Linked DNA regions of Homo sapiens. The protein of the gene in region 2 purifies or fractionates together with the protein of the main gene of each other region. This does not show direct contact. Each region holds a gene or a part of one and is shown on either strand. Other genes may lie near its edges. The genes, in order: GNA11, CMIP and RILPL1.

What was found.
Region 1: the proteins of CMIP (region 2) and GNA11 purify together in Homo sapiens (affinity purification with mass spectrometry; one large-scale study listed by BioGRID and IntAct). This does not show direct contact.
Region 3: the proteins of CMIP (region 2) and RILPL1 purify together in Homo sapiens (affinity purification with mass spectrometry; one large-scale study listed by BioGRID and IntAct). This does not show direct contact.

The regions. Positions count from the first base shown.
Region 1 is NC_000019.10:3,092,932-3,097,200, reverse strand, and holds the start of GNA11 (guanine nucleotide-binding protein subunit alpha-11), read right to left. Parts: upstream 2,840-4,269; 5' UTR 2,550-2,839; coding exon 2,414-2,549; intron 1-2,413. UniProt on the Homo sapiens protein: Guanine nucleotide-binding proteins (G proteins) function as transducers downstream of G protein-coupled receptors (GPCRs) in numerous signaling cascades.
Region 2 is NC_000016.10:81,443,450-81,447,613, reverse strand, and holds the start of CMIP (C-Maf-inducing protein), read right to left. Parts: upstream 2,807-4,164; 5' UTR 2,373-2,806; coding exon 2,073-2,372; intron 1-2,072. UniProt on the Homo sapiens protein: Plays a role in T-cell signaling pathway. Isoform 2 may play a role in T-helper 2 (Th2) signaling pathway and seems to represent the first proximal signaling protein that links T-cell receptor-mediated signal to the activation of c-Maf Th2 specific factor.
Region 3 is NC_000012.12:123,523,713-123,527,253, forward strand, and holds part of RILPL1 (RILP-like protein 1), read right to left. Parts: intron 1,247-3,541; exon of another isoform or gene 316-1,246; intron 1-315. UniProt on the Homo sapiens protein: Plays a role in the regulation of cell shape and polarity. Plays a role in cellular protein transport, including protein transport away from primary cilia.

The DNA.
Region 1 (4,269 bases), on a different chromosome or scaffold from region 2:
AACAGCCCCTTCCTTCCGGGGAGCCTCGGCCCCACCCTCTAGCTGCTCCCTGAAAAACGGGGGCAATCGCAAGCTCGGGGCTGGCCTACTGGGAGAGTGGAATGAGTTCCCACAAGCAGGCAGGGAGCCTGACAGAGGTCCCCTCCCCTGCACCCTGAGGCCCCAGCCCCTGGACCTCAGGTGGTCAAAGTCCTCCCAGCAAGGGGCCCTCCAGCTGGGATGCAAGGTTGCTTGGACGGGAAGTTTTCTGAGGGTCTGTCGCATCAGATTCCCAAAGGGGTCCCTGGCTCCAACACCTTGGGTGTGAAGCCCTCCCAACCCCCTGACAGCCCCGGCTCTCTGCGTGGCACTGACACCAGTCCTCCTTGGGTCGCACGTGAGCTCACATCTTCCTCACTGTCCTATCTGCCACGCCTGGCCCTGAGCCTGACAGCAACCTCCCGTCTTACAGGCTGATAGGGGTCAACTTTCAGGCTCACAGAGTGGGAGGGGGTGGGACTGCAGACACAGGTGCTCCTGCAGCAGACACCCCCGGGCCACAGGCGGGCACTGGACAGAGGATGCGGGAAGGGCCGCATCACTTCCAGACTTGCTCCAAGCAGCCAAGGCGGCAGACACGGGAGCCCCTGACCTTCGTCCTTGAACCCCGTGTCAATCTCAAGTCCAAAGTGCAGGCACAGAAGACCGGGTGCATGCAGGGATGGCGGCGGGGGTTCTGGAGGTCACAGAGCCACAGGGCAAGGCCATCTGGTAAGATCTTTATGACACCAGTAATTCCTAACTCCCCTCCATCCAAACAAAGTCCACGACCCACTACAAAAGCCAGCCAGTGCCACTCTGTGCAAAGTGCCACCACGCGGGCCGCACTGCACATTTCCTCCAAACGTGAGGACCACGGCTCTGCCTACCCGCGGCCCCCTGGAAAGATGGCCCATTTTAGAACCCTTAGGTAAATCAAAACACAAGTTTGGGGAAAAAAATCAGGAAGGCGTTTCATCCAAGGCACCTCTGTAACCCGGGACACGGAGGGCCCTAAGAGGCTCACGGCAGGAGAGGCAACGTGTTCCCCACACAACATGCGACCTGCCTCCTCCCCAAGAGCCACCGCCACCAGCACGCCCCCTCCTCCGTCACCGCTGCCTCTCACGCATTTCCGACCTTCCCCACCGCCCCGCCCCCGGCCCAGGAGCTAACCTAGGAGCTCGGGAGGGCAGGGGCGGGGCAGGGCAAGAGCTTCTGTTTTGTAAACCACTGAAGGGGCCCTTATTTGGAGTGACAACACTTTACAGCTGGCCCGACTGGCTCCCTGCAGCAGGTGTGCCTTGGGGAGAAGGAGGTTCACCAGCAAACCTTCTCCAGGACGGTGGGGAGGAGCCGGCAGGTGGGGGGCTGCTCTCAACGAGGACTCAGCGTGGCTCCCACCAGGACTCTAAGGAAGGGGGCGGGGGAGGCTGCCGAGATAGCTGCTTGGGACAACAAGCAAAGGCTCCCTCAGGTGTCAACCGCCCCACCCTCAGCTGAGCGGAACCCTGAGGAGAGGAAAGACTGTCTTTTTCCCACAGGGTGCATTCCAGCCAAGAGGAGTACGGGGTTTCCCGGAACAGGAAGGCAGGAGAATGGCCCTGAAGGGAATGTGGGGATAGGGGACACGGAGGAGTCTTCGGGGGGATGGGGGGGTGTACAGGGCCTGCATGGAGGGTACAGGGCCTGCATGGAGTGTACAGGGCTCTGCCTGGAGGGAAGGGTCAACGCGGGGCCCTGAGCAGTGAGGGGTGAGTGTGCCCTGTGGGTTACAGCCCAAAGGTCTGGCCCTGAAGGGGTAGCGAGGGGTGGGTACTCCGGTGGGGTAAGGTCAGAAGGTCCCTGTGCAGGGAGGGACTGGTCCCTTGAGAAGGAACAGAGGGCAAATCCTGAAGAGTCCTGGAGGCCCAATGTAGACAGCAGAAGCTGGGAGCTGACCTAGGAGTGATCGGGGGCCTGATCCAGACAGGACAGACACAGGCTGACACCGGAGAGTCCCAGGTGCCAACATGAACAGTTAAGGCAGGGGCTGACCCCAAAGAAATCAGGGGCCCGCAGCTGACCCCGGAGGGTCCCAGGTGCCGACCTAGACAGCAAAGGCAGGGCTGACCCCAGAGGGTCCCGAGCCGACCCAGACGACACAGGCAGGGCTGATCCCGGAGGGCCCCGCCCCGACCCGGACAGGCAGTGAAGGCACAGGCAGGGCTGACACTCGAGGGTCCCGCGACCCGGACAGGCAGGGAAGGCACAGGCAGGGCTGACCCCGGAGGGTCTCGCGACCCGGACGGCACAGGCAGGGCTGACCCCGGAGGGTCCCGGCCCGACCCGGACAGGCAGGGCAGGCACAGGCAGGGCAGGGCCCGCAGCCGGCAGGCCCGGGGGCCGCACTCACCGAGCAGCAGCAGCTTGAGCTCGCGCCGGGCGTCGCGCTTGTCCCGCCGCAGCTGCTTCTCGATCTCGGCGTTGATCCGCTTGGACTCCTTCACCTCATCGCTCAGGCAACACGCCATCATGGACTCCAGAGTCATCGTCCCGGCCCCGGCCGACGCGGCCGCCTGCCCGCCGCCGCCCCCCGGCCCCCGGCCCGGCCCTGGCCGGAGCCGCCTCGGCCGCCGCCCGCCGCGGCCCTCCGGCCTCGGCCACCGGCCCTCGGCCCCGGGCCGGCCCGCCCCGCCTCGGCCGCCGCCTGGCGAGCCGCCGGGTCCCCGCTCGGGCCGCGCCAGCCGCGGACTCCCGCGCGGCCGCACTCAGCCCGCGCCGCCGCCGCAGCCACCGCCAACCGCAGCCGCCGCAACCGAGCGACAGCGCCGGACAACCTAGCAGGCTGGGAGCGCAGCCCGCGACGGGCAGACGGTGCGGCCAATGGGAGGGGCCGGCGGCCAAGCGCGCCCACCATGGGGGCGGGACTAGCGGCCTGGGCGGGGCGTCGGCGGGCGCGAAAGGGGCGGGGCGGGGCGAGGGCGGGGGGCCCGCGGGTTTGGTTGCGCCGACGTGGGAAGGGGGACGCGCAGCCGGGAGCCGGGGCGGGGCCGCCCGGGATTGTGGGAATGTGGCGGACTCGGCCCGGCCAGGCTCGGCTCCGCTCGGCTCCGTTCGGCCCCGCTCGGTCCCGCTCGGCTCGGCCCAGGCGCGGTGGCGGAGGCGCGCACGCGGCCGCTGCGCTCTCTGGGTCTCCAGGTGCCTGGGCAGCAGTCGCTGCCCCCGGGAAGCGCCCTGACATTGCCTGACAGGAACCTTCACTCATCCATTAAAAAGCGTTAATGGAGGTCGGGCGCGGTGGCTCACGCCTGTAATCCCAGCACTTTGGAAGGCCGAGGCGGGCGGATCACCTGAGGTCTGGAGTTCGAGACCAGCCTGACCAACAGGGAGAAACGCCGTCTCTACTAAAACTACAAAATTAGCCCGGCGTGGTGGTGCACGCCCGTAATCCCAGCTACTCGGGAGGCTGAGGCAGGAGAATCACTTGAACCCAGGAGGCGGAGGTTGCAGTGAGCCGAGATCACGCCATTGCACTCCAGCCTGGGCAACAAGAACGAAACTCCGTCTCCAAAGAAAAAAAAAAAAAAAGAGGGCCGGGCGCGGTGGCTCACGCCTGTAATCCCAGCACTTTGGGAGGCCGAGGCGGGTGGATCACGAGGTCAGGAGATCGAGACTATCCTGGCTGACACGGTGAAACCCCGTCTCTACTAAAAATACAAAAAATTAGCCGGGCGTGGTGGCGGGCGCCTGTAGTCCCAGCTACTCGGGAGGCTGAGGCAGGAGAATGGCGTGAACCCGGGAGACGGAACTTGCAGTGAGCTGAGATCATGCCACTGCACTCCAGCCTGGGCGACAGAGCGAGACTCTGTCTCAAAAAAAAAAATTAAAAAGCGTTAATGGGACACCTACTGTGTATCAGGCATTAATGGGACACATTCTATATGCCAGGCACGGACCAGAGATTAATGGAGTGCCTGCTGTCCATCAGGTGTCAATCAGGCCTTACTGCAGTGCCTGCACCATTCCAGGCCAGGTATACGCATTCATGAAATGCCTACAGGATACCAGGCACTGCTGTAAGCCCGTTAAGCTAACCCTACCCAAGGGATATCTTTTTTTTCTTCTTCTTTTTTTGAGATGGAGTCTTGCTCTGTCGCCCAGGCTGGAGTGCAGGGGCGTGATCTAGGTTCATTGCACCCTCTGCCTCACAGGCTCTAGTGATTCTCCTGCCTCACCCTCCCAAGTAGCTGGGATTACAGGCGCGCCACC
Region 2 (4,164 bases):
TGCTCCATGGATAAGCCTCAGTCCCCAGTACTAGACAGGTGCTTTCCGGAAAGGCCCACACTACCGATGGTGCCACCTACCTGGGCTGGCCAAGGTGAGCGAGGGGCCTCTGGCTATTCAGGTCTTTCTTCCTTCCCTCTTTCTCTCAGATATACCTCCTGAGCAATCGGAGGTAAGTGGGGAGGCATTAGCCTCGAGAGCTGGCTTTCCGGAAACAGGACGGTAGCAGCGGGACACTCACTCCTGGCTTCTCCCAGAGGGAGAAGGGGCTCCTCCTGGCCTTCCCATGGCAGGTCACTGTTCCTTCTAACCATTTTCCTACCCCACCACCAACAACCCTTCATTTTGTGGAGTGTAAGAGGAAAAAAAAAAAAAAAGCCCAATAAAGTCCCCCTGAGCCAGGTGAAAATTCTGAAGCCAGATCTGGGGTCTCCAGAATCCAGGCAGGGGGCACCGCGGTCACCAGTTCCTCCCCACATCAGAAACACTCCGTACTGGCAAATTTTCGGAGGCTCTCTCCCGCCTCCATCCATTGGAAAGCCAAATGCTGCGGCCTGTGGCGCGGGACGGGCTTGAGAACATGCACCAGCCTGACCGGGGACTGGGCCGCCTCCCCGCGACCAGCAATCCTCCCTGAAAAAGGAGTCTTTGCAGATATTGCACCAACGTGCCCACAGGAAAGAGAAAATAGGTGCTCTAAGCATGTCGGACCCCAAATTAAGAATAAAAGTCCTCGAGGGCTGCAACGCTCTGGGGTGGGGGGTGGGGGACTGGTTCAAAGAGTAGGATTCTTCAGCTAACTTTTCCCCCCTCCCCATTCCTTGGGGCATGTGTCATGGCCTGTGACACACCGCCAAGGGAACATGGATGCCAGGGAAATGTCTACACACGCTACACGTTTGTGACATGCCATGTAAGCGACACCCTATTTCCTGGCTGGGTTTTCTTGGCACAGGTGTGGGCAGGCAGTGGATTCGGCCCCCTCCCACTGCGCTTAGTAAACAGGATCACGGTGGCCCCAGGGAGGAGTGTGCATTCTGGGGAAGACAAGCTACACCCCCAATGAGGATGGGACCCCCACGGCAAGCCTCAGGCCCAAGCCACAGCCGGTATTTGAAACTGTCCTTGTTTCAAAACACAAAGCATCCTGTTCAGGCTCCTACCCGCCACCCCCACTCTCCCCTCGACCCCACCACAGCTGTCTTTCTCCACGTACGAAGAAGGCCACCATTTGCAGATCTGATTTCAGAAACAGATCAATGGTTTTTCCTCTCCGACTCATCCAGCTGACCCAGTCCTACCCATGTATTTAAAAACAATAACAAAATTAAACCTCCAGCAACAAAACACACACGTATACACACACTCTACAGACAATGCCGGACCAGGGCTCCACCAAGCAGCTTCTAGGCTAGAACTCGACCACCGCTGGGTCCTGAGATATTCCAGGACCACTGCCCCCTCCCCCTCCACTTCCAACCTCTCAATGTGCGAATGAGATTTTCAGAAAGGGAAGCACCCCGTTCTGCCTGCCAGCCCTGGCAGGAAAGAGAATAAAGGACGGGTAAACCAAACAGAGAAACTGGCTTCTGGAAATTCTTTGGGTTTGGGGGTTTGGAGGTTTTGTTGTGTTGTTTGTTTTTTTTTTTAAATCTGAGGGGTGGTATTTTGTTTTCCCCTCCCCCACCCCTCAGATCCAGATGGGCCAGGGGCTTCCAGAGAGAACCCCCACCACCATCAGGGCCCAGCGTCGGGTCCATCCTCGAGTCCCAGCCACCAGAAACACAAGAGCTGGGGGCAGAAGGTCCCCAGGCACCCAGCCTGGCGGTGGGCCGAGTCTCCAGCATTTTAAGGGTCTCTCCTGAGCCCGGTCGGCTGGTTTGGGCTTCAGACTCCAAAATCGAGCCCCGCGAGCAGGCCAGGAGCGAGGCGCCCTGGTTCTCCCCGTTCCCCCGGCACCCCCCACCGCCCCCCAGGCCCTGGGCTCCAGGTGCAGCGCCAGGGGGCAGCCAGGGAGGGCGCATCTCGGGCCCCGAGGAGAGGCGGGGGTGCAGCCGCGCAGAGCCACTCACCGTGGCGGACGCCAGGCTGTTGTCGGCCAGCGTTAGGTGGTGCGGCTCCCAGCGCCTCAGGAATTTCGAGGTGAGGATCTTGCTGAGAAAGGTCCGCGGGTGCCGGATGACACAGACCTGAATGTCGCCCTCCTGCAGCAGTTTGTACCTCATCCCGTTGCAAAGCAGAAGAGCCCGGCGGCAGGGCACGGCGCCCATCTTCGTGCCTTCGGGGGCCGACACGTCGCCCCCCAGCAGCGGCTTGGTCTCCTCGATCTGCCGGGGGTCGCCGCCGCCGCCCGAGCTGCTGGTCACATCCATGGCCGCGCCGGGGGAGGGGGCTGGGGGCGGGGAGAGGGGGCTGTCCTGGGCTGCTGGGGCGGCGGGGCCCCCGGATCCGGCGGCCCGCACCCCCCCACCCCCCGGGAAGGTGGGGGGGTGTGGGGCTGGGGGCGCCCGCAGGGGAGGGGGCGCTGCCCGCGGGGGGCGGCGCGTGCGGCGGGCTGGGCCGGCCTCGGCGCTTCCTGCGGGGCTCCGGGCTTCCTCCTAGCTCGTCGGGTGCATGCTCGCGGCGGCTGACCGGGCTCGGCGGGCGACGGGGAGGGGCGGGGGAGGCCGAGGGCGGGCCGGGGCCAGGCGCGGAGGGCGGGCGCCGGGGTGGGGGCGGCGGGGTGGGGGCGGGCGTGTCTCGGGGCCCCGCGCCGCCGCGCGCGTGTGTACAGAGCGTGTGTCCGCGCGGCCGTCCGGGCGAGAGTGGCCGCGGGCGGGGCGGGCCGCGCGCCGGGCTCCCGGAGCCCGGGGCGCCCGCGCGATTGGTCCCCGCAGGGTCATGTGCCCGCCCCTCTGACGTCAATGGCGGCAACGGCGGCGGCCGCGGCGGCTTCGGCCTCTCGCGGGCGGAGTCCGCGGTCCGGGCGGGGTCGCGGCCCACGACGGGGAGGCGCGGCCCGACGGGAGGGGCAGCCCCTGGGGAGGGGGCTGGGGCGGGCGAGCCCCGCGGGGTCCCGGCCCGCCCCGCCTGGAATGTGGGGAGGGGGCGGGGCGCGGGGGCGGGGCGCGTGACGTCACGCCAGCCGCGCCCCCGCGGGTGCCCGGGCGGGAGCCCAGCCAGGCTGCCGGAGCCTGGGGGCCCGCGCCTCACCCACCCCCGCCGCCCCCGGGCCGGACTCGGACGGGTAAAGAAGGATACCCGAGGGCCGGGGGCTGGGTGGAAGGACGGGGACTGGAACCCTCGACCCCTGACGCCCCCTCCGCTGTCCAGGCTGTCCAGCGGGCTGGCCAGATGGGGCCGTGGGACGGGGACGCCTTCCCGACTGAAAGTGTCCCCGCGGTGATCCGGAGGATGAGCCCACCCTGCCCTGTCTCCCACTGCGGGACCCAGCCGGCCTCGAACTCCTGGCCTTTGACGTCTGCTGGCTTTGGCCTTGGGGGTCCTCAAACCTTCTGGAGAGAGGGGACGGTCCGCCCATCCCCCTTCTTTCTTCTGCCCAGGGAGACAGAGCCTCTTCTAGGAACCCACTTAAAGCACCCCCCAACCTACACAGCCACCCCTCTTGTGCGCACCCCAGCAGCTCCCCCTACTTCACCTTCCCTGGGACCCCACCTGGTCATTTTATCTGAGTTCACAGGCCCAGCACCAGCCCACGAGAGAACCATATTCGATTCTCTTGTGACCCAGGGTATCAGGAACTGCAGCCTGGATGCAAAAAGCTCCCTTTCTGCCATCACAAGCAGCCGGCACCTAAGGCCACCTAGCAAATGCTCAGCTCCTCAGCCAGGTTTTCTTATCTCCACGTGCTCCTGCAGCTAATAACGTTAAAACCCTAGATTTTTGCCTTTTTAAGTGAAGGCGCCTCTGTAGTGAACACATGAATGTGTGCAGCGTGTGTTGAACTGCGTCGTGAACACTGCGGAATATCCACAGCATCTGTGCCGTTGGTGGAAATTATTCACCCCCCCTCTCCCAAGAACAGGCAGCATGAAGGTGCTCCCCAGAGGACCCTCTCCCCGAGCCTGGCCAGGGTTTCAGGCAGGGGATGAAAGGCAGGTCCCAGGCTGCATCCCTCACCAAGGAAAGAAGACTCACATCCAGCCTGCCCAGGAGATGCCTCCT
Region 3 (3,541 bases), on a different chromosome or scaffold from region 2:
CTCAGGGGCAGCTTGGGTTGCTGGGACTTTGGGCCATCCCCTTCCTCGTGAGAACTGGGCCGGCAAGGCCACCACGAGTCCCATATGGCACCTCTGCAAGAAACAGAAGCCACCCTTCTTTGGGGCAGATGCCTGCGTTTATGCTGTTAGGACCTGGCTCAGTTAGAACTGCCCCCAAGGACAACCACAAAGCTAATGCCGCATCTTGGAGCTCTCTTCAGAGTAGACAGAGCAGCCCCAGGATACGGGGGTCCGAACGTTCCTAACCTCTGGGGGGCACACCCCCTGATCTCTGGACAGACAGTTGGGACAAACCTTTCTCCAAGGGAGCCAGAGGCCTCGAGAATCCTGGGGATGCCGAGGCAGACGGGGCCCCCTGCCCCAGCGTTCCTTAGGTATCTGATCCAGGTATCTCTCCATGGGGTCTTCAACCACTGACTCGATCACCCTGAGCCTCAGTTTCCCTCAGTGGTGGAACCAAAACAAAGGCTCACGAAGTGAATGTGAGGATAAATAAAATCAGTCTATTAAAGTTATTTTGTGGGTGGCTGCAGTCAAAGAAATAGCCAATAACAAGTGCTGACAAGGATAGGAAGAAACTGGAACCCTCCTACACTGCTGGTGGGAATGGAAAATGCTGCGGACATTTTGGAAAACACTCTGGCAGTTTCGCAAAAACATTAACACAGAGTTACCATAGGACCCAGCAACTCCAGTCCTTGGATCGGCTCAAGAGGTATGAACACAATGTCCACATGAAAACGCGTGCAGGTGAATGTTCCTCGCAGCATTATTCCCAGTACCCAAAAGGAGCCAAGTGTCCATCAGCTGATGAATGGGTAAATAAACATGGCACATCCATACAATGGAACATTATTCGGCCATGAAAAGGAATGAAAGCCTGACATATGCTACAACATAGGTGGACCCTGAAAACATTATGGAAAGAAGCCAGACACAAAAGGTCACATGTTATATGATCAGTTTTACAAAATGTCTAATATTGGCAAATCCATAGAGATAGGAAGCAGACGGGTGGTTGTCTAGAGCCAGAGTGCTAGAGGGGAGACGAGGAATGACTGGGAATAGGTACGGAGTTTCTTTTGGGGGGTGATGAAAATGTTCTAAGATTGATAGTGGCAGGGCGTGGTGGCTCACGCCTGGAATCCCAGCACTTGGGAGGCCAAGGCAGGCGGATCACTTGAGGTCAGAAGTCCATGACCAGCCTGGCCAACATGGCGAAACCCCATCTCTACTAAAAATACAAAAATTAGCTGGGTGTGGTGGTGGGCACCTGTAATCCCAGCTACTCGGGAGGCTGAGGCAGGAGAATTACTTGAAGCTGGGAAGCGGAGTTTGCAGTGAGTCAAGATTATGCTACTGCACTCCAGCCTGGGTGACAGAGTGAGACTCTGTCTTGGAAAAAATAATAATAATAAATAAAATAAAATTGATGGTGATCATAATGACGGCTGCAAAACTCTAAAAACCACTGAAGTGTACATCTTATTTATTTATTTTTAGAGACAGGGTCTTGTTCTGTCACCCAGGCTGGAGTGCAGTGACACAGTTATAGCTCATTGCAGCCTTGAACTCCTGGGCTCAAGTGATCCTCCCACCTCAGCCTCCCAGTAGCTGGGACTACAGGCAGACGCCACCATGACTGGCTAATTTTTTTTTTTTTTTTTAGAGATGGGGTATTGCTGGCTGAGTGTGGTGGATCATGCCTGTAACCTCAGCACTTTGGGAGGCCGAGGTGGGCAGATCACTTGAGGTCAGGAGTTCGAGACCAGCCTGACCAATATGGTGAAACCCTGTCTCTACTAAAAATACAAAAAATTAGCCGGGTGTGGTGGCAGACACCTGTAATCCCAGCTACTCAGGAGGCTGAGGCAGGAGAACTGCTTGAATCTCAGAGGTGGAGGTTGTGGTGAGCTGGGATTGTACCACTGCACTCCAGCCTGGGTGACAGAGTGAGACACTGTCTCAAAAAAAAAAAAAAAAAAAAAAAAGAAACAAATGGGGTATTGCTATGTTGCCCAGGCTTGTCTCAACCTCCAGGGCTCAAGCAATCTTCCCACCTTGGCCTCCCAAAGTGCTGGGAGTACAGGCGTGAGCCACCGTGCCCAGCCAGAAGTGTACACTTTAAATGAGTGTTATGGTATCTGAATTATATTGATAAAGCTGGTAGCCCTCCACCCCCGCAAAAAACAAACAAACAAACAAACAAACAAAAAAACGGTACTTGGTAAAACCGTAAGCTAGCTCACAAAGCAGGGTTGCTGTTGTCTGTATAAAACAGTGGTTTAAGGGCCAGGCGCAGTGGCTCACACCTGTAATCCTGGCACCTTGGGAGGCCAAGGCAGGCGGATCACTTGAGGTCAGGAGTTTGAGACCAGCCTGGCCAGCATGGCAAAACCCCGTCTCTACTGAAAATACAAAAATTAGCCGGGCATGGTGGTGGGCACCTGTAATCCCCGCTACTTGGGAAGCTGAGCCAGGAGAACTGCTTGAACCTGAGAGGCAGAGGCTGTAGTGAGCCGAGATCAAGCCACTGCACTCCAGCCTGGGGCACAGAATGAGACTCCATGTCAAAAAATAAAATTAAAATAAAATAAATAAAAAATAAAATAAAATAGTGGTTCAAGGCATGGACACTGGAGCCTGCCGCCCTAAGTCTGAATCCTGTTTCTGCTGCTTACTAGCTGACCTTGGCGAGTTATTCAGCCTTCTGGTGCCCCACAAATGAGGAAACTAGTGTGGTATCTGCCGGGAAGGGTGGGTGTGAGGATTAAATGGTTACTATAAGTAAAGCGCCTGGAATATGCCCGGCACCCAGAAAGCACTAACAATGTGTGTGCTGATCTCTGTCCCATCCCTACAATTCATCACAAGCGGCCAGGTGGCCGGATGCTAGGCATGGCCTCTGTCCATCTTCTAAATAAGTTCTCAGACCCACCTCCTTTGTCAGAAGCCTGCTGCATTGGGGAAGAGAGGAGTAATAGCCTAGTATTTGCACAGAGGGCGCAAGGTCACCAGGGGAGGTGAAGGGCAGGGCCGGGGTGGAAGTGGTGGTGGAGGGATGGAGAGGGAATGTTGACCTCCCATAAGCAGATGGGGCCTGGAAGCAGAAAGAGGCTCATCCAGCCCTGTTCCTCTCTGTTTCCAATTGGCATAGGCTGGGCTCACACGGGGCTCAGAGAATATCAGTCAAGTGTAACTGGCTGGGGCAGGGAGAATAATGGCTCTTAAAGTCATCCAAGTCCTAATCCCTGAGAATATGTTACCTTACATGGCAAAAGGGACTGTGCAGAGATGATTAAGTTAAGGATCTTAGGCATGGCACGGTGGCTCATACCTATAATCCTTGTAATTTAGGAGGCTGAGGTGGGAGCATTGATTTAGGCTAGGAGTTTGAGAACAGCCTGGGCAACATGGCAAAACTCTGTCTCTATAAAAAATACAAAAATTAGCTGGGCGTGGTAGTGCATGCCTGTAGTACCAGCTACTTGGGAGGCTGAGGTGGGAGGATCACTTGAGC